Linked DNA regions of Homo sapiens: region 2 is linked to region 1. Evidence: fine-mapped expression QTL. A gene starts in region 1. The other region holds a variant in brackets. All regions are shown on one strand. Distances are between the middles of the regions. Region 1 holds the start of ANKRD13C (ankyrin repeat domain 13C). Region 2 overlaps ANKRD13C (ankyrin repeat domain 13C).

What was found. PIP is the estimated chance that this variant, and not a neighbour inherited with it, causes the effect. A credible set is the group of variants that fine-mapping cannot tell apart.
Region 2: its variant is the best candidate, but not a certain one, in a credible set for the expression of ANKRD13C in whole blood (INTERVAL, PIP 0.59).

The regions. Positions count from the first base shown.
Region 1 is chr1:70,352,276-70,357,275 of GRCh38, forward strand. It overlaps ANKRD13C (ankyrin repeat domain 13C), which reads right to left and starts at 2,447. Exons shown (of 13, transcript NM_030816.5): 1 at 1,704-2,447. The coding sequence starts at 2,133. ANKRD13C-DT (ANKRD13C divergent transcript) reads left to right here and starts at 2,536. Exons shown (of 4, transcript NR_168352.1): 1 at 2,536-2,933. RefSeq lists enhancers at 854-2,053, 1,313-2,231, 2,187-2,236, 2,232-3,149, 2,277-2,336 and 3 more.
Region 2 is chr1:70,307,714-70,313,245 of GRCh38, forward strand. All of the region lies in intron 5 of ANKRD13C (ankyrin repeat domain 13C), which reads right to left. Among named protein-coding and RNA genes, the nearest start is that of ANKRD13C, 44 kb to the right of the region's middle. The variant A/G (reference allele first, on the strand shown) is at 2,878.

The DNA of each region.
Region 1 (5,000 bases):
CTTGCAGTGAGCGGAGATTGCACCACTGCACTCCAGCCTGGGCGACAGAGCAAGACTCCGTCTCAAAAAAAAAAAAAAAAAAAAAAAAGTTAATTTCAGTGGGCTAAGGACAAGAGTTTAAGAGTATACAGGATTCTAATTACTTTGAACAGAATTTGAACTTAAACAAATGTACTCCTAAATGTTGGGTTGAAGAAGACATGGAAGCCCAACAATCCTGTAATTCAATAGCTTCAGTGATATTCATCCATCTCTTCTTTCAAAGGGAGTTAACTCTCAAACCTTTTATCTGTTTCAGGGATATTTCAAGGTAATGTAACTATGGCTACTATGTAAACCAAATTTGAAAAACTTCCTCATAATAGACTAATAAACTGAAGCTACAACCCATCTCCCACTAACAACTGTTTTCCAAAGGGCTAGCATAGAATTACCATCATCAACAAACAACATTATCCTTGTACTATAATAGTAAAATGATTAAGTAATTTAAATGTAGGAAAGAAAAACTGGCTGCAACTTTAACATACTTTTTTGGGGATTTATGATAAATGATAGGTGGTGATTTTATTACAATTACAACATTGTAAATTCTGAAAACAAATGCAGTTGTTAGATAATTATACAGCCAAGAGAAATCTTACTCGTTTTTTTTATCTGAATTTTTGTCCTAAAAAGCCTACGATCCAATGGAATTAAGTGAGCTTATTTCACAGGCAAATATTTCATTGATACGTATATCATTTTGAGCACAAAGTTGGTTCAGTGTGTTCTAACTGAATGTATACAATTTTCATATTAATAGCAGAGCGATCAACAATATTTGCCAACTACCCAGTTTAAAACGGCTATTAAATGTTAAAATGTCAGTGTTCACATTAGTCTTCAATAATAAATTTACTGTTGCTTAAAAGTCAACTCAGTCACATTATTTTTTAGAATTAAACAAAAAATTCAGCTGACAAGGCAAAAAGAAATGGTCAATATTGACTAAGATAAAATTACCATAAAAATCATAATACTATTTTTAGTCACAGTCATCAAGATGAGACATTACTATTAGCAATTATCTACTTAAAACAAGCAAAAAATCAAATCTCTACTCAAACAAAAATCGGCTGTTGAGAAGTCACTTTAACTGTTCTACGTATCAAATACCAACAAATTTCTACTGTGTGGCTTTCAGAAATCTAACATTCTAAGTTTACTGAAAGCAGACAAAAAAGAAACAACCTGGTGGCAGGCAAAATCACAACCAGTTGCAGTCAAGATGGGATCTGTATGTGAGCAATGAAGGGAGGAGGGCAATTTATGCGTTCAAAATTTAAAATGCCAAGGTAGGGGGAAGAGAGAGAAATAAAGATATATAGCTCCATAAACAAAGGGAGAAAACCATGTTGGGTGGGAGGCAACCTAAAATTTCTGACAGTCCAGAATCAGCAAATCGAAGGCCTGTCTCAAACAAAACAGCTTCTCACGACAAACTTTGAAGTGGGCAAGGAGGATACATTCCTTTGCACCCACAAGAACCAACCCCTTGACCACTGGCACGCTATTACTGAGTCGATCATGATTTACCGAACGGCCCGGATGATGGGCAAAAAGAAGAGTCTGCTGGAGGGGGCCTAGGATTCCAGAAGCCTGGGGAGGCACACCCTAGGCTCGGGGAAGGAGAGAGGTGGAGAGGGGCTAGCACTCCTCACCGTGATTATCTTTCTGCCCGATATTGTGCGTGCGGATGAGAGAGGAGAGTCTCCTCACATCCCCCTTGAAGACGCACTCGTGCACCGGGTAGTGTGCGGGGCAACTGCCTCCATCCGCGACGACAGCAACGGGGTTGGTGCCGGCCAGAAGGGCCGGGGACTGGGAGTTGGCAGTCACGGAGGAATTGTGCAGCGGCAGAGCCGGGGCGCCGGGGGGATTGGAGGAGGCCGGAGCTGCCTTCAGCTGTAGCCGGTGGTGATGGTTACTGAAGATCTTATGACAAGCTTTGCCGCCCTTGCCAATCCTGCTTCTGGTAAAGGTACCGCCGAGGGCAGCCGCCGCTTCCTCATCCCCGGGCTCCAGCAGGTCCCCTTCTTCTTTGCTGGGCTTGTGGTCCCTCCGCAGTGAGCGGATCTTCTCCCCGGTCATCGCCGCCGCCAGGGGCAAGGGGGGGAATCGGGAGGCTCACCGCTGGCGACGGAGCTGGCGCTGCGGCGGCACAAGGCGATTAGAGCGGTGGCCAAGAGCCTCCAGCGCAGCATGAACTCCCACTGAGCCCCCGAGCCTGGGACAAACGCATCTCCCGGGGAAGAGCCGGCTCTCGCCTAGGCACGAAGGGACGCGCGCTCGCTGGGGGAAGCTAGAACTCAGGTGCCCACGACACCAGGATCTCAGTCTCGCCGTCGCAGCCGCCGTCGCTGCCTTACACCGAAAAACAGGGCACGGCCATCTTCCTCTTGCTCCTCTCGCGAGAGCTCCCCCAGGAGTGAAGAGAGAGAAAACACCGCGATAAGTGAGCCACCCGCTCCCTCCCTCGCACCTTCTATTCCCAGAATCACTAGGCGCCGGCGCCTCCGAGGCAGTGTGTTTCCGCCCAGAGCTGGAGTCTCCCAGCTGCCAGCCGACCCCGAACCCGCACTCCCGCCAACCGCGCTTTTTGTGGGCGGTCGGAAACCACAGCCTCCGTTGGATATGTTCGGTGCATGTTATAAACAACCACTTAAACCCTCCGGATCTGAGCCTCCCGCAGAGGAATGCAGAATGACGCCACGGCACGCAGGATGTGATGTCACCGAGATGCAGAGGATACTCAGTCAACCAACATTTACTGAGCATCTACTTCGTGCCGTATGTACGAAGCTAGCAAATATGTACAGCACCAGTACTGATTGCAGGGAGCACTGTAGAAGAGGAATGAAGGCCAAACAATTAAAAGCGGAGGCGGGGAGGTGGGTTGCACACAAAAAAGGGAGGGACGAATTTTAGTGTTGAGTTGTCAGGAAAGTCATAGAAGAGTTTAGGTGCTGACTTTGGAAAATGATGGGCTGTCCAGCAATCGGAAAGAGGGGAGGCCACTCAAATATTTATTAGATGAATGAATTTCGGGCAGATGTCAGAGTTAACATATATGAGGGTGGGGACACTCAAGGAGGGCAAAGAATCGTGTAACTGAAATATAATTGTATTAGTTCATGGCCAACCTCAACCTAGTGTCAAACTCTGAAGAAACGTAAATCTGCCAACCATAAAACTTTAACAAAGTAACTAAAGCTGGCCACTGAGGACGTAAGGAGGGGGCTTAGCAAAACATCCTAAAGATCTTCACCCATTTAACTCTCCAAAGTCCCCCTATGTTCTGAGAGCAAATACTTCAGATCTCTCTCTCTTTTTTTTGTTTTTTTGTTTTTTTGACAGAGTCTCTGTAGTCCAGGCTAGAGTGCAGTGGTGCAATCTCGGCTCACTGCGACCTCCACCTCCCAGGTCCAAGCGATTCTCCTGCCTCAGCCTCCAGAGTAGCTGGGATTATAGGCCTGCGCCACCACACCAAGCTAATTGTTGTATTTTTAGTAGAGACGGGGTTTCACCGTGTTGGCCAGGCTGGTCTTGAACCCCTGACCTCAGTGATCCGCCAGCCTCAGCCTCCCAAAGTGCTGGGATTACAGGCATGAGCCACTGCGCCCGGCCAGATCTCTTCTTTCTTAAAGTTTATACTACTGCTAACTCATCTCCGCAAACAAACAACTCGATGGGCCTCTCTTAATCCTCCCCAGTCACTCAACTTTTCACCTCCAATTTTCTTCTCAGTCTGTTCAGATAAATCTGTTTCTTCCTCTTCTTTCTTTTTCGGTGGAGTGGAGAGTTCCGTTTATGTTAAAACATTACCCAATCAACAGTTCAAAGCATCCTCTTGAGACAGCAGTAGAGACTGAAAAAATACATGCAATAATGTTTGCTTCTTCCACAATAGCCAATATTTATTGTTAACGCTAAGCCAGGCAGTATGCTTGGCACTTTATATGCTGTTATCTCCCCCTGATTAGCATTAGTATCCTCACTTGACAGTTAAAAAAAACTTGCCCAATACTTCAATGCTAGAATGTGGTACAGTCAAATCTGACAGTAAGGCTAGAGAGAGAGGAAGGGCCAGGTCATGCAGGGCTTTGTATGTCATCTTAAAAGTTTACACTTGGCCGGGCGCGGTGGCTTATGCCTGTAATTCCAGCACTTTGGGAGGCTGAGGCGGGCAGATCACGAGGTCAGGAGTTCGAGACCAGCCTGGCCAATATGGTGAAACCCTGTCTTTACTAAAAATACAAAAATTAGCTGGGCGTGGTGGCTTGTGCCCGTACTCGCAGCTACTCGAGAGGCTGAGGCAGAAGAATCGCTTGAACCCAGGAGGCGGGGGCTGCAGTGAGCTGAGATTGTGCCCCTGCACTCCAGCCTGGGGACAGAGTGAGACTCTGTCCAAAAAAAAAAAGGAATAGTCTTTTTAGAGATCTTTAAACAGGGAATAGCATAATGCAATCACCTTTATAGAAAATTCAGTGACTCAGGCCGAACGCAGTGGCTCATGCCTGTAATCCCAGCACTTTGGAAGGCTGAGGCGGGTGGATCACTTGAGGTCAGGAGTTCAAACCAGCCTGGGCAACATGGTGAAACCCTGTCTCTACTAAAAATACAAAAATTAGCCGGGCATGATGGTGGGTGCCTGTAGTCCCAACTACTCGGGAGGCTGAGGCAGGAGAATCGGTTGAACCTGGGAGGTGGAGGTTGCAGTGAGCCAAGATCGTGTAATTGCACTCCAGCCTGGGTGACAAGAGCAAAACTTGGTCTCAAAAAAAAAAAAAAATTAAAAAAAAGAAAATTCAGTCACTCATACTTTAGAGAAGTATGCATCAAGAACAGAACTTTAAAGAAGTATGCAGTAAATCAGATGATGAGAGCATGAACCAAGTTAGTAAGAGTGAGGCAGAAAAAGGTTTAAGAGGTTTTTAAAAATGAGTTCAATCTTAGCA
Region 2 (5,532 bases), 44 kb before region 1:
CAGGAGGACTGTTTGAGCCCAGGAGCTTGAGGCTAGCCTGAGCAACATAGCAAGACCCTGTCTCTACAAAAATAAAAATAGAAAAATTAGCCAGGTGTGGTGGCAGGTACCTGTAGTCCTAGCTACCTGGGAGACTGAAGCAGGAGGATCACCTGAGGCCAGGAGTCGAAGGCTGAAGTGGGCTATGATCATGCCACTGCACTCCAGCCCAGGTGACACAGCAAAACCCTATCTCTTTGAAAAAGAAAAAAAGAAAGAAAGAAAAAACTTTTTTGAAACAAAAATTGAGAAGAGCAATAATAGTGTAATTCTATAAATGATCAAAGTTCTTTCATGCTCATTAATTGAGATCCATCCTGAAGTAAGTATTTGGTGTATCATGAACCAAAGATGATTAAAAGTAGATAGCACTCCAACTTAAGTTAATTTAACTTCATTATATCTCATTACTTATTTATTTTTTTAAAGACGGGGGTCTCCCTATATTGGCCAGGTTGGTCTTGAACTCCTAGCCTCAAGAGATCCTCCCACCTCAGCCTCCCAAAGTGCTAGAATTACAGGCACAAGCCACCATACCCAGCCAACATTATATCTTTTGAAGTAATTATAACACCCTACAAAAACAGAATTTAATATCATACACTAATACTTTTATTAAAAATCAGGAAAGGAGGAAAATGGTAAGGCAGAGAGAAAACAAGTTGAGGATTGAGAGCAAAAGCTAAGAAAAAAAAAAGAAAAGGGCAAGGCGCGGTGGCTCAGAGGCCTGTAATCCCAGCACTTTGGGAGGCCGAGGCGGGCAGATCACGAGGTCAGGAGATGAAGACGGTCCTGGCTAACACGGTGAAACCCCGTCTTTACTAAAAATAGAAAAAATTAGCCAGGTGTGGTGGCGGGCGCCTGTAGTCCCAGCTACTCAGGAGGCTGAGGCAGGAGAATGGCGTGAACCCAGGAGGCGGAACTTGCAGTGAGCCGAGATTGCGCCACTGTGCTCCAGCCTGGGCGACAGAGCGAGACTCCGTCTCAAAAAAAAAAAAAAAAAAAATTAAAGAAGTTAAATTATTGAGCAAAACAAACAACCAAACAAATAAAAAAACATTTCTGATAGATTTTAATGCATTCCAAAACATAGCAATTTACATTTTCCCAAGTCTGAAATAACTCTTTTTCTCCTCCACGTAAGTTAAACAACCAACCTATTTCCTGTTACCTCAGCATAAGTTTAGCACAGTATTCCAACAGTAGCATAATTCACTAAACAGAAAATAAAAAGAGAGTTTTTAAATTTAAATTTTCATTTGGCTACCACTTACTCCCCAATTTTCTTTCTTTCCTTTTTTTTTTTTTTAGACAGAGTGTCGCTCTGTCACCCAGGCTGGAATGCAGTGCCGCAATCTCAGCTTACTACAAACTCCGCCTCCCAGGTTCAAGTGATTCTCCTCTCCGCCTCCCAGGTTCAAGTGATTCTCCAGCCTCAGCCTCCTGAGTAGCTGGGATTACAGGCGCCCCCCTACCATGTCCACCTAATTTTTGTATTTTTAGCAGAGATGGGTTTTCACCATGTTGGCCAGGTTGGTCTCAAACTCCTGACCTAAGGTGATCCACCCGCCTTGGCCTCCCAAAGTGCTGGGATTACGGCGTGAGCCACTGCACCCAGCCTACTCCCCAATTTTCAGAAGAGTTTTTAAGCTTAATGTTTTCTATCTATAATATACAAATAATAGGCCGGGCGCGGTGGCTCAAGCCTGTAATCCCAGCACTTTGGGAGGCCGAGGCGGGTGGATCACGAGGTGAGAAGATCAAGACCATCTTGGCTAACACGGTGAAATCCCGTCTGTACTAAAAAAAAGAAAATACAAAAAATTAGCCGGGCGTGGTGGCGGGCGCCTGTAGTCCCAGCTACTCGGAAGGCTGAGGCAGGAGAATGGCGTGAACCCAGGAGGTGGAGCTTGCAGTGAGCCGAGATCGCGCTAGCCTGGGCGACAGAGCCAGACTCCGTCGCAAAAAAAAAAAAAAAAAAATAATAATAATAATAATATACAAATAACAGTCTCAAATACAGGATGGATTGATTCTGTAGACAACAAATAAAAATAGAGAATTAGTTTTTTAGTTAAAACGTGCTATATGCATAATGCAAAATTTAAAGTAGTGATCATATTATAAATTATTTGATACTTTATAGTATACAAAGGGCTTTCTTCAAAAAAATGATTTTATTTCATATACACCAAAAGAAAGTTTGCAACAGGTGGGGTAGTTAGTATTATCCTCATTTTAAAAATGAAGAATAAAGCTCAGAAAACATATAAAATATGTGATTTGCAATGTCAAATACTTAGGGGTCGGTATTTCTGACTCCAATTCAAAGCTTTTCTATACCTAAAAATCCAGGCTGGAATATTTCAGTTACCTTCAAACTTGTTACTAAGTCTGTGGCTATTTTCTTCGAAGTCTGAATATAAGTAAGAGCATAAAAAAGAGTGTGCTCTACTATCTCAAAAGTAAACTCACCCTGATTTCAGTATTTCTTGGCTTCCCCTTATTTTTCGCTTGCTTTTTAAAAAATATTATGTGTTTTGACAAGGGAAAGAAATATGCCAAAACTCTAATTAAAGTTTGATCATAAAATCTAATAAAAGATCTAGGCTATCTATAAGCCAATGGGTTTCGTTTTAGAATTATACATGACATCTAATCATCACGTATTAATAGTTGTGATGTTAAATCACTATAATCCTTTATTAGCAATGAAACAGATGTGCTGACTTTTTGCATCAAAGTCAAATTCTCAAAGAAGAAATACTTTGGACAACTGTCTCAGTGGTTACTTGAGGAACTCAATTATGCAACATTTATAATGTATTGTTTATAACT[A/G]TAGATATATACACAATTTTAGAAGTGATTGCATGTATTTATATTTTAGTATAATTAAAATATCACTTTTAAAATATTTTATAACATTTTGTTCAGCAATATACATTGATTATTTTAGAATTCAAACCACTAATGATTACTAAGAGAATCAGTTAAAAAGCCAAAATACTCAAGGGACAACCCAGTTTAGGATCACAAAGCAGGACTGGGGTCTCCCCACATGGGAAAAAAATGGGGTAAAAAAGACAGTATTCAGGTTTTAGGCCAATCTAACTTGGAGCTCCTTTACTACACAAGGCTACTATAAACCTGTTTTTCTATGTGTTCTAGGACACCAGGACTCCTGAATGATATATAAGGCATAAAAGCAAGATGGGACTATTAGAGTAACAAGACTGCATAATCATTAATAGAGACAAACTAGCCTGATGAGCTAGAGTTATAAAAATGTGAGAAAAAACTGATTAAATTTAGAATTTAAAATTCTCTATACAAGGATTAAACACACTAGAAAAACCTTAATCATCCATGCCATAAAGTATTATGTAGCTGTTAAAATTAGTGAAGTATTTCCACCTGAAATATGGTAAGATGCCTACTATGGGTTGAATAAAAATGATGGCTGGGTGTAGTAGCTCACGCCTGTAATCCCTACACTTTGGGAGGCCGAGGCGGGTGGATCATCAGAGGTCAGGAGTTCGAGACCAGCCTGGCCAACACAGTGAAAACTTGTCTCTACTAAAAACATAAGGCACATGCATGTAGTCCCAGCTACTCGGGAGGCTGAGGTGTTAGGATCACTTGAACCCAGGAGGTGGAGGTTGCAGTGAGCTGAGATCGCGTGACTGCATTCCAGCCTGGGTGATAGAGTGAGACTCCCTCTCAATAAATAAATAAATAAATGTCAACTTGCATAATGATATAACAGTATGATTCCATGGGAGAAAAAAAACCTAATTCTGAGGGGTTGTGTGTGCATAGCTATGTACACAAACACTTTAGTAAGCACTGAAAAGCATTTGAAAGTAGTCATACGAAATGTTAACAATAGTCACCTCTGGGAAGTGGTAACAGGGAAACTTAAAAATACCTGATTAATTTTCTATAATGTTCAAAACTTTTACAGTGAATATTCTATTAAAAATAGATTAAAATCTTAGTAAACTGAGGATAATTTTAGTATTAAATAACTTGTATTAGTCAAAGCTAACTAAAAAGCATAATACAATTTTTAGAAATGTATACAGATGTTATAAAATCAATGTTTAAAATTTACACAAGCTGTAATGTACATAAGCTGGAGAGGAAGTCTGATTTGTATCTAAAAGCTCCAAATAAAGAAGGCAGTTTATCAAAAATATAATTTGTAGAAAATTATTACTTGTTGAAAAGAGGCCAGATTCTTTCTCAAGACAGTAGAAAACTACTATTTTTTCATACAGTAGAGAGAAATAAGTGCTAATGGACTTCAGATTTATGGCTGCGTTTACTTTTTCAGAAGAAATCAGAAGATGTAAGAGAATTAGAAGAAATAACAAGTATAATTGTTAATTAAAGTTTAAATCTGGTAACTTCCTAGGCATTTTACTGCTATATGGTATATTGTATAATCTATTTTCTTACTGACGAGTTGAAGCTGAATTTGCAAACCCAAGTGTATTGTGAGAATATCATAACTTCCTCAAGGTTAACAAATATCAGAATGTAATGTTTTAAATTAAGTTGCATTTATTGACCTCCCATAGACTAGGCCTAAAACTGTGAAATTTCTATTACTGTTTTTTTTTTTTTTTGAGACAGAGCCTTGCTCTGGAAATCCCACTACAAATTGCCTGGGAAGAGCAGTAGCAGCACTGGATGGGGCTAAGTACTGTAAGTAATCTCCATTTCACAGTCTAGAATTTGTTTTTAAATGTATAGAGAAAACTATAGAGCCACAGAATGTAGAACTGAAAAGAAACAGATTTGCTAGTTCAAAATTCCTATTCTACTGACTTTGAATTCTTTGCCCAAAGTTCCTCATTTGGTATAATATGCATACGTGCCTGGGCGACAGAGTGAGTGAGACTCTGTCTCCAAAAAAAAAAAAAAATTAATTTAGATGCTTCAACAAAAACTCACATAAGCTCATTATGTCTAAACCTTTAGAGATTACATTTTTTTAAATCTTTAAAAACAACAAAATTTAGTTGTTTAGTTAGTAAAATAAAGGTCACTAGAATCAAATTTCATATTTGGATATGAAAGTTTTCTCTCTAGTGGACTCATGTTTAAAATGAGGAGAAAAACCTTGTTAAGGTAAGTCAATAAATGACTGCAAAAAAATCTAGGGCAAAATTAGGATCTTTCGTAAGTCACTGGAATCAATGTTCAACCAAACAGTATGTAAAGAAAGTGGCTATAAAGTATGCAAGAGGCAAAATAACGGAAAGACAACAAAATATACATAAACAAAAAATGTTAACTAAATTCTCCACATTCAGAGATCTAAGTACTAGATTTCAAACGTCCTTAAATTCAGTAGTCCCATAATCCCATAATTAATTTTCTTTTCTGAAAACTCCTTGCATTCTATTATTAAATTTTAAATGCTGTTTGTAAAACAAAATTTTTAAAACTAAAAGTGCCATTTTCAACCTTAAAAATATAAACTAT